Linked DNA regions of Homo sapiens: region 2 is reported to be linked to region 1. Evidence: microRNA targets listed by miRTarBase, many of them from high-throughput screens and not tested one by one. Region 1 holds a microRNA gene; the other region holds the end of a gene's coding sequence.
Evidence for each region. Region 1 holds the annotated microRNA hsa-miR-6841-5p (UAGGGUACUCAGAGCAAGUUGU, at 2,723-2,744, opposite strand). A microRNA usually pairs through its seed, bases 2 to 8, with sites in the 3' UTR of a target mRNA and lowers its output. Matches are read on the target gene's strand: a 7mer-m8 pairs with bases 2 to 8, a 7mer-A1 pairs with bases 2 to 7 and ends in A, and an 8mer does both.

Region 2: miRTarBase lists TAB1 as a target of hsa-miR-6841-5p. Seed matches in the 3' UTR shown: 7mer-m8 at 1,486-1,492.

The regions. Positions count from the first base shown.
Region 1 is chr8:24,951,119-24,956,635 of GRCh38, forward strand. It overlaps MIR6841 (microRNA 6841), which reads right to left and starts at 2,749; the gene lies at 2,678-2,749. NEFL (neurofilament light chain) reads right to left here and starts at 5,494. Exons shown (of 4, transcript NM_006158.5): 1 at 4,354-5,494; 2 at 3,063-3,187; 3 at 2,358-2,677; 4 at 1-1,834. The coding sequence starts at 5,397. The coding sequence ends at 1,692. RefSeq lists an enhancer at 3,045-4,244.
Region 2 is chr22:39,429,715-39,434,714 of GRCh38, forward strand. TAB1 (TGF-beta activated kinase 1 (MAP3K7) binding protein 1) reads left to right here. Exons shown (of 11, transcript NM_006116.3): 11 at 301-2,168. The coding sequence ends at 508. LOC100506472 (a long non-coding RNA gene) reads left to right here and starts at 2,446. Exons shown (of 4, transcript NR_040535.1): 1 at 2,446-2,949; 2 at 3,103-3,152; 3 at 3,515-3,522; 4 at 4,411-5,000. RefSeq lists enhancers at 3,799-4,517, 4,518-5,000.

The sequences.
Region 1 (5,517 bases):
GGTCTAGTAAGCAGAAATGTGAAAAGTTTTGTTTCTGAGGAGACGCCTCATCTTTACAGAAGCCAATACACTGAGAGCCTTCATAGTTCCAATCCATTACCATCATGGCAAGGAAGCACTTTACCTATTTGCATAGCAACATATATTTAACTAGAAATAGGTGGTACAAAGGGATTAAGTAACTTTAAATGGAGACCACTTTGGTTTCAGGTTAAATTAATAACTTATAGAGATCGTCTAAAAAACAAATATTGAATGAAATTAGCTGACAAAGCAATTGTTTCAGAACAAAGGCAGAATAGCAGATAGTAATATCATCTATATTTATTCCACATCAAATGCAAGAGCGTTCTTAACTTTACGACAGAAAGGATACATGGGGCGTGTATTTGATGCAATGTCCAACCAGTCAAGCTATCATTGAAATCCAAATATCTCCCAGTAGAGACATGCAGAGCAATGTCAATGTAACATACAAGCATATTACCTCCCCCCTTAAGTGACTCATAATTTCATTACTTGTGTCTGTAGCTTTTAAAGGTTTAAAAATGTGTAGCATTAAGTGGTATTTACTTGAGGCAACAGAATTACGCTTAACAACACACTAAATCATGAGCTCAGGATTGCAGGCAACATGTTTGCAGTGGAGTGGCAAATAACCTTTGGTAGTTTTAATCCCTTCTCCTGAAATTATATATAGATAAAAAATTATTCCTTCTTATTGTACCATGTTCTCAGGTTTTAACCTCCTCCCATGATATTTAGACTATATTTTAAAATGCAGTTATAGGGATGAATGTATGGGATTCATATTCTATCCATATTGCATTGTGACATATCAGTTTGAAATGACCTATTTATCATGGTTCCATAGTGTAATGGTTAGCACTCTAGACTCTGAAATGACCTGTTTACCATAAAGAGTGTATCTGTCAAGTAATTTCAGAATTGCTCCCTAGAAAGCCATCCCAAAACCTAACACAACACGTGTTATGAGGCAAAGTCTATTGTTATTTATAGACTTTCTCATTTACTCATGTTTATTATCAGTAAAATTTTTGTGGGGAGAGATTTCACAAGTAATCATGACATAACTGTATCCCTCAGAATTTCCAATTGAAGGAAGAAAAAAAAGTATTGGTAATTGTTAAAATTTCAACTTTTTAAAAAATTGGAGGTCAATAGTCCACTGGTATATACTTTATATTGGTGCCATCTTTAAGGTATTTTAATTAAGTAACAACCACAGCAAAAAATACATCATTCGGTATAACTTTATTTACTATTTATTGCACATAACTCAGGGTCTTTAATTGCTAACCACCGAAGGTTCAAAGGACTATTTTTCCATGAAGTTTAACATTAACATTAGTGAATTCATTTACTCATGTGGTGTTTTTTATTGTAAACATCTGAATGATTCACATTGCCGTAGATCCTGAACTCATAAGCGTGGTCCATGCACAGGCTGGCAGCAAGCCAGAAAGCCACTCTGCAAGCAAACAGATACTCTGCATAAAGAGGAAATTCATAGCACAACATTGAATGTCCAACCTAAGTCATCTCAGAATTATACATATATTGACTTTTTAATTCACATAGAATCTGGAACTCAACTGGTTGGTTGGTTGGTGATGGGGTTGACCTGATTTCGGGAGAATTATTCCTGAAATAATTAAGGAAATGGGGGTTCAATCTTTCTTCTTAGCTGCTTGTTCCTCCCCAGCACCTTCAACTTTCTTCTCCTCCTCTTCAGCTTCTTTGGTTTCCTCTCCTTCTTCACCTTCACCTCCTTCTTCTTCTTCTTTTGCTTCTTCAGACTCTTCCTTGGCAGCTTTAACATAAAAAGAAAATGTACAAAATGCAAATCCAGGGTAAGTCCAGTCAAAACATGTCTGCAAAGGTTTTATTTGCAAACACAACTGTCAGAATGCTACCAAAACCTCCCAGCTCCACTCTCTCCAAAAGCACATGTAACAGACAAAGCTTGCCATGAATAATTTGCCACTGAACACATATTTAAATCGAATGAGATCACTTCTAGGTATGGGAAGCTCTGCTCCTCTCCAAGACTTAACCTCAATATTTCTTTCATTATGTGTCTGGTATCTATTTTTGTTCTTTAGGACACCAACCTGCTGTGTTAAATGATTATATTAAAAAATGAAAATTTTGACCAATCACCTCATTCAGAGTAGATGCCTTAGGAAAGTTTTGCTAAACAAACAGAAAATTTATTTATGATTCTAATGTCATATATGAATAAATGAGCAAGGCTTCATTTGTCTTATCCACCTCCTAACAAATCTCCACACCCAGTTTACACTTGAAGTTGCAGGGGTTTTTTCTTATCATACCTTCTTCCTCTTCAGCTGCCTCCTCTTCCTCGGCCTCTTCCTTGTCCTTCTCCTCCTCCTCGGCTTCTCCTTCAGAGGGGGGCTCATCCTTGGCTTCCTCAGCCTTGGCAGCCTCAATGGTTTCCTCCACTTCGATCTGCTCCTCTTGGACATGGCTGGTGTAGTAGGACGGGAAGGAGCGGGTGGACATCAGATAGGAGCTGGTCTGTAAACCGCCGTAGGCAGATCGGCCAAAGACCTGGGAGCTCTGGGAGTAGCCACTGGTTATGCTTCCCACGCTGGTGAAACTGAGTCGGGTCTCCTCGCCTTCCAAGAGTTTCCTGGGGATGCAGATGCAAGGTGAGGTTAAAAAACACCTGTGTTTCACAACTTGCTCTGAGTACCCTAAACACAAAGGCAAGCAGGAGCAGGGCTGGGATTTATCAATACTTAATGCCTGGGGATCTTTTGATGGAGACCAGAAAAAATATAAATAAATCATCCTATTAGATTTAAAGTGTAATGACAAGATAAAAACAGGACTCCTAATTACAGGGTTAAATTCTTATATATCTAAATACCCTCTTCTTGGAAGAAGCCAAAAACTAACACTTCATTATTTCAAAAGGACTATTATTGAAGGTTTCTGATCCAACATAACTTTAAATGGGATCTGATTTTCTTCCTAAGGTTTAATGGCTGCTGTCTTTGCCCCTCTATTTTCACCTGTAAGCTGCAATCTCAATATCCAAAGCCATCTTCACGTTGAGGAGGTCTTGGTATTCTTTTAGGTATCGTGCCATTTCACTCTTTGTGGTCCTCAATTCATTTTCTAATTTGTTGATCGTGTCCTGTTTGAAGACAAAAATAAAACAAAAAAAAAATCCGAGCATAAATCCCTTCTATTATTTTACTGTAGTGTAGTTGCAAAGGCCTAGTTTCGATTAAAATCAAGGTGCACACCTTTGATAAAATCTCTCCTAGAATAACTTCCTGTATCTTTTGAAAAACCTTCATGCCTAAAATACCCAAGTTCATGAAGCCTGAGATGAAAAAAAAGATGGACGAAAATTCTGTTCTTCTGTTTCTTTACTTAATACTGTTTAATGATCATCATAAAATGCATGCAAACAGACTAAGTTGATAGAAAAACTGTGTCTCTCATTCACTGATTAACTCTTCTTTAGCTGGGTTACATGCCAGGAAACTAATGCCTTTCTTTATGAGAAGAAAATAGCCAGATGTAAACAAAAAAAAGAAAAAAATTATTTTCTATGAAATATTTCCTATGTATCTAAATTATTTTTTCTACTCCCCAGAAGAAGAAAAAAATTTCTACTCCCCAGAAGATGGAGATGTTTTAAAATGGAGATCTTTTTAAAATTGTATTTTTTCTACTCCCCAGAAGATGGAGATGTTTAAACAGAAATGTTGTAGAAGATTTTACACATAAAGAAAAAAAGAAAAAAAAAAGGTAAAAGGAAATGGTTTACTATGAACATCACTAGTTAACTACCTAAAACAATGTTGACTATTTTCCTGTCTACCTACTAAATAAAGGAAGGGAGTGGTTGGTAAAACTAGTCATAAAGCATGCTGGTCACAGTAATCCTTCAGAATTAATTGAGAGTTGTTCACTCTACTATTTATTAACTAGATGATCCGATAGTTGCTGCAAAGTAACTTGTGGTTAATGCAGGTCAGTAGAGAGCTGATCTCACTGCAGGCCGGAGGCAACGCCCAATTCCCACGTCTTCCCCTCCCCCACCCAACAAGGGCTGGGCAGCTTTAATGCGGAACGCCGGTGCAGCAGCACGGAGCACACTCCCAGACTACAGTGGCGCCCGCACTCACGCCCTTCAAGTGCCCCACCCCTCCCACACAGTGGCCAAGGAGCCAAGCCCTATCCCTAAGAGCTGCGTGCAGCCGCACCACCCCTGGTCTCCACTTTCTGGGCGCACCAACTCCCCCCCTTGCTCGAGTCCCCCGCCCCCCTGTGTTTCTGGCCGTGCCGCACCTGCATAGCGCTGATGTCGGCGTTCTGCTTGTCCTCCAGCTCCTGCAGCTGCTTCTCCAGCGCTTCATTCATGCCCCGGCATGCTTCGATTTCCAGGGTCTTGGCCTTGAGCAGACGACGGCTCTCGGACACCTCGTCCTTGGCGGCGCGCACGGCGTCGGTGTTCTTGGCGGCGCTCTCGGTCAGCACGGTGAAGCGGCTCTTGAACCATTCCTCAGCGTTCTGCATGTTCTTGGCGGCCAGCTTCTCGTACTGCGCGCGGATGTCCTTGAGCGCGGCGGAAAGGTCGGGCTTGGTCACGTCCATCTCCACGGAGATCTGCGCGTACTGGATCTGCGCCTGCAGTTCGGCGATCTCCTCTTCGTGCACTTTCTTCAGAAAAGAGATTTCGTCCATCAAGCTGTCGATGCGCTTCTCGAGCTCGGCGCGAGCGAGCGCCGCCTCGTCGGCGCCTTTGCGCGCTTCCATCAGCCGGCCCTCGGCGTCCTCGCGGCTCAGCACCTCCTCTTCATAGCGCGCCTGCAGGTTGCGCAGGGTCTCCTCCAGCCCTTCGCGCTCGCCCTGGAGCGCCTGCTTCTCGTTGGTGGCATCTTCCGCCGCCAGGCGCAGGTCGCGGATCTCCTGCTCGTACAGCGCCCGGAAGCGGGATGGCTCGGAGTGCTTCTGGCGCAGCACCAGCAGCTCGGCTTCCAGGACCTTGTTCTGCTGCTCCAGCTCGTGCACGCGCTCGATGAAGCTGGCGAAGCGGTCATTGAGGTCCTGGAGCTGCGCCTTCTCCTGCGTGCGGATGGACTTGAGGTCGTTGCTGATGGCGGCTACCTGGCTCAGGTCGAGGTTCTCCAGACTGGGCATCAACGATCCAGAGCTGGAGGAGTAGCTGCGGCGCACGGACAGCGAGGAAGACACCGGCGCCGAGTAGCTGGAGTAAGCTGAGCGTGCGGTGCTGTAGCCGCTGCGCACGCTGGAGATGTGCACCCGGGGCGTCTCCACGTAGCGCCGCTTGTAGGAGGTCGAGTAGTACGGCTCGTAGCTGAAGGAACTCATGGTGGCGGCCGGTGGCTCCCCGGCCCGCGGCGGCGGTGGGAGCCCGGAGAGAGAGGACAGGGGAGAGAGGGAAGGGGGAGGATGGATGGCTGTGTGCGGCTCGGCGCCGTTCTGCCACCC
Region 2 (5,000 bases), not on the chromosome of region 1:
CAGGTGATCCACCCGTCTTGGCCTCCCAAAGTGCTGGGATTACAGGCATGAGCCACCGCGCCCAGCCCCATTTTCTTTACCTTTAGTTCATTTAAGTAGCCACATGCATCTGGTGCTTTAAAATTTGACTTTTTATCTGTTCCTAAGATCATCTGGCTGGGCCAGCTCCTATGGTCACCTCTGCCAGAAAGGCCTGTGGCCCAAGAGGCTGGTAGAGGCAGGGGCCATTCTGTCCCCACTCTGCCCCAGGCCCCTTGACCCGGCTGCTTCTGATTGACTCCCTCCCCTGTTGTCCTGCAGCCAAAGCCCGACCTTAACCCTGCAGTCCACCAACACGCACACGCAGAGCAGCAGCTCCAGCTCTGACGGAGGCCTCTTCCGCTCCCGGCCCGCCCACTCGCTCCCGCCTGGCGAGGACGGTCGTGTTGAGCCCTATGTGGACTTTGCTGAGTTTTACCGCCTCTGGAGCGTGGACCATGGCGAGCAGAGCGTGGTGACAGCACCGTAGGGCAGCCGGAGAATGCAGCCCAAGCAGGGCCTGGCATGGGGCAGGACAGGGTCCAGCCTTTTCCTAACATCTGCCTGTGCCACAACGGCCAGCAGGTGCCCCATCCTCTGCCCACAGCAGACTCTGTCCCATGGCTCTCCGGGCAGTAGAGTGTGTGAGTGCAGACTGGACCTGTGGTTCATACCTTGTCACCACCCGGGAAGCTGAAGGCCACTTCCTCCCAGATGGCCTCAGCCAGGACCATCGCCCTTTCTCAGAGCAGAGGGCCAGGTATAGAAACCGCAGTGGGCCTGCAAGCCGCCCGAGCCTCCCCAGCAGCCTCCTACAGAGCAGGAAGAGGCGCCCTGTGAACCCTGAGTGTTGCAGGCCCAGCAGACCCTGCTGTCCCAAGCCCACCCCTCCTCCCACCATCACCTCCCTCACCTCGGGACAGTAGCCCTCCACTTCTCCAGCCTCTCAGCCCTGTGCTCCTGCATCCAGAGTGGAACCCAGGCTGGTGTCCGCATCTGTCCCTGGGCCCCACCCCTGGACCTGCCTTGGTTGTGTCATCTGTTGTAAACGTTCAGGAGGACCAGGGCAGCATCTGGGGCCTGGGATGGCCACAGAAGGGGCAGGCCAGGTGGAAAGGAGCCAGGGGGAAGTGGTCTAAGAGACCTGGAACTGCCAGAGGATGGCGGCCTGGGCTTCCCCAGAGCCAGGCGTGCGGGAGAGGTGAGGACTGGCCCCGGTGGGCTGAGGCAGGGGCCGCTGTCGTCAGGCCTGAGCCAGGGTGAGCTGGTGCCTGCCTTGCATTTTCCTTCTGGTGCTGTGAAGACCATAGGCTGGCAGGCAGCTGAGATGAACTGTCTTTACCACTGATGAGGGGCCTCTGCCGGCTGAGGGTAGCAAGCAGGGGTTGTGAGTCAGGCTGGGGGACTTGTTTGAAAGAAAGAGGAGTGGAAAATGGTTCCAGGAGGGAAGAGGTTCTTTGAGACACAGTACCCTGGGAGGCATAGGAGAAGGGTCGGGCCAGCCCAGCCCAGGGCCTGAGTTAGACTATTTCCCACATGTTCTCTGCCTTCAGTGGGGAGGGGGTGCCACCAGGGCTGTCGGCCAGGATTGCCACTCCTGTTTCAGAGGAAGCAGGCCGAGAGACTTGCACCTTGGCCAAGCCACACAATCAGTGGGGCAGCCAGAGCTCAGACCTGAGCCATTTTGTCAGTATCCAGGACCCCCCGGATTCTCCACGCCCTCCCCATCTCCCAGTCTCCCTGCCCCCCATGCCCCAGACCGGCCCACCAGGGACTAGCCGCTGTCGCACAGCCTCTGGGGTGCTTGGTCTCTGCGAAGTCAAAGGCCTGACAGCTCTGTGGCCTGGGAATCCATTTTCCTGCGGCAGAGCAGGGCCTGGTGTGGAACCAGGGAGCTGTGGGAAGCCACAGCAGAAATGGAAGAAAAACAGGTCTCAGCCCAGGGTCCTCGCTCACTCCCTCACTCCCCACTTTGAAGCCATCTCTGTTCTGCAGGTGAGAGGATTTAAAGTCAGTCACAAAGGCTTGGGAACAAAAGGAATTCTCTTCCAAGAATGCCTCTGTGGTGCTGTTTGGTCTCTAGAAACAGGGTCACTTTTTTAATGTAGTAAAGAAGTAATAAATGGTGGCATTACACATTGTGATATTAATAGCGCTGTTGCTCATGTTTCCTGTAACTCGCAGTGGCCCTGGGAAGTGGACGCCTCCCCTCTTCACTGCCCTGGAGGTTCAAGAACTCGGCTCGCCAGGCTGCTAAGTGGCAGGGCTGGGATTTGAACCCAGGCCTTCTGGCTGCATTCCATGCTGCCGCCCCCACAGCCCCGGGGAAACATGGCTTGCCTGTTACCTCCCAGGCCCACTCTCGGACCCAGATGTGTTCATGCACATCTGAAGGGGGTGACAGTTTTCCCTGCTGCAGGCCAAGCCCTCTGGCCCATGGCCAGTGGCAGGGTTGTGGTGCCAACTCCACTCTGCTGAGAGTGAGCCTAGGGTCTTGGTGTGTGAGTGGTGCTGTGGCCACCCGGTGCTCAGGTCACCAGGGCGGAGGCCTTGCCCTCTTGCCAGCTAGTTTGCTTTACTGGGTTTTGCTTTGGGGAAGGATCTTCTATAAATACCAGTCCATAGAGCACTTCATCCTGCTTTCTGGGACGTAAGAACTCATCCCTCTAAGAAGAGCCTCTGCAACAGAAACCGAAACAGTGCATCTGCTTAGGAACAAAGCCACTCTCTGTCTGGTGTGGTCAGAGGGTCCCGGATGTCCCCCCCTCCACTCTGCTGGGCAGGGGCTGTGCCTGCGGAGCTTCCTTCCAGGATCTGTCCTTCTCAGCTTCCCCAGCCGAGCCGCCAGGGGTCCTGAGGACCACCATGGCCCCTGAACACTCCTGGAGCTTTGGTGTCAGCCCTGCCACCCGAGAGAGAGAGAGAGACATGGTGAGTAACTGAGGCACAGACAGGTTCAGGCACAGTCCTGGTCACAAGTGGCCACCATGCAACTCTGGGCCCCAGGTCTCTCCCAGCACCTGCTCTGCCCTAAGCGTGTGGGGCCGGGCGCTGCACTGTTGACTTTATGTCCCCTGTCCCCAGCCTTGGTGTTACTTACTGCACTTGAGCCTGTCTCCTGGAGGGAAATGAAGGTGAGAGGGACACTGTTTCATCTAAGAGGGGAAGCTCGGGAATGGGTTTGAGGACTTAAGGGGCCAGGAGTCAAGGTAAGGAAAGTGAATGGCACAGCGAGGCGAAGCTGTGCAGCCCTGGTGGGTCACTGCCACCGTCCACGTCCCCAGGTGGCGTCTGACACAAGGTGGGCCAAAGTGGCCCTCTCCAGCCTGTCTGCCTCCCATAGCCTCCGTGGGGAAAGCACTGAGGCAGGATCAGATGGAACCAGAGAAGCCCATCCCCCACCTCCTGCCCACTCATTCCTTAAAGACATCAGTCTCGGCCGGGCGCGGTGGCTCAGGCCTGTAATCCCAGCACTTTCAGAGGCCAAGGCAGGCAGATCATGAGGTCAGGAGATCGAGACCATCCTGGCTAACACGGTGAAACCCTGTCTCTACTAAAAATAAAAAAAGTTAGCCGGATGTGGTGGTGGGCACCTGTAGTCCCAGCTACTCTGGAGGCTGAGGCAGGAGAATAGCGTGAACCTGGGAGGCGGAGCTTGCAGTGAGCCAAGATAGCACCACTGCACTCCAGAGCCTGGGCGACAGAGCGAGACCCTGTCTCAAGAAAAAAAAAAAAGACATCAGTCTCTCCCAAAACCCAGCTAGGTTGCTGGCTTGACGGAGGTCCTGGCCCTCAGAAATCCCGTTGTCCCAGGACGGGGGCAGGTGGTCTGAGGGCGCCGCAGCACCCGTGAGCCATCCTCACTAGGAGTTGTACCGTCCTGGTCTGGTCGTCTCATTCTCTCATGAGCTGGGAGCTGGCAGCAGAGCCAGGAGCGGAGCTGCAGAGCAGGCTCCCCACGATGCCCGTGTCGGGATGTTCCTGCCAGTGGCAGTGGGGGCAGCCGGGCCTGTCTGGAGCGACTCCAGGCTGCTCAGACATCAAAGGGAAAAGCACCCGATTGTGTTGTTTGCGGGGCTAGTTCCTTCTTGTCCCTCAGGTCTTAGCACAGATGCCCCCTCTGGAAAGAGCCCTTCCCTGGCCCCCACCCCACCGCCCCCTGCCCGTCTCCCTGTTGTTTCCTCCATGGGTCACTCACTCTCAGCCTGTATCCGTGTCGCCTCTCGCCTGCTCCACGGGAGCAAGGGCTTTCTCTCTTATTCCACTAGGTCCCAGCCAGGCACGCAGCAGCCCCTCACACAAGCATGGCATGAGTCAGGGAGGAAGGGACAGAGGGAATGGCCGTGTGACCTTGGGCAGTAACTTGGGCTGGTTTTTCATGTACAAAATGAGGCGACGACCCACTTAGATTGCTGAACACATCGAGTGGCCATAGCCGTGAGAAGTGAGAGCTGCCCCTGCCCTACTGATGGGGAGACAGGTACAGGTGACGGGAGCGTTAGCCGAGATGTCCACCCATCCACCACACGCCTATGGGCACCCTTGTGCCATGAGGGCTCAGCCTGGGCCCTGGTGGAAGCAGGTACCGGGTCGATGCTACCTGCAGCCTCATCAGAGCCTAGCTCTTGGGCAGCGGGCGTGGTTCTGGCCTCTTCACAGCCGAAGTGCAGACAGGGGCTGTGGGCCAAGCTCCTGAAATTTCCGCCGACAAGGGCATCTTTCATGAGTCTTCCTTCTGGGCCCCCTGTTTTGAAACCAAACAAGGATGCAGATTTCTGCCAATCCCGATGAGCTCGGCATGAGCACAGGCTCTGTTCCCACGCGGAGGTGATGTCAGCCCCGAGCAGAGACAGGCGCTTGGCATTCCACGAGCCTGGGCGGCCGCGTCAGGGACAGACACAGTGTCTGACAGCTGGCTTTGAGAAATACTGACACCAGTTCACAGACTCCATTCCTACCTTCAGGGACCCCCAGAAAGGTGA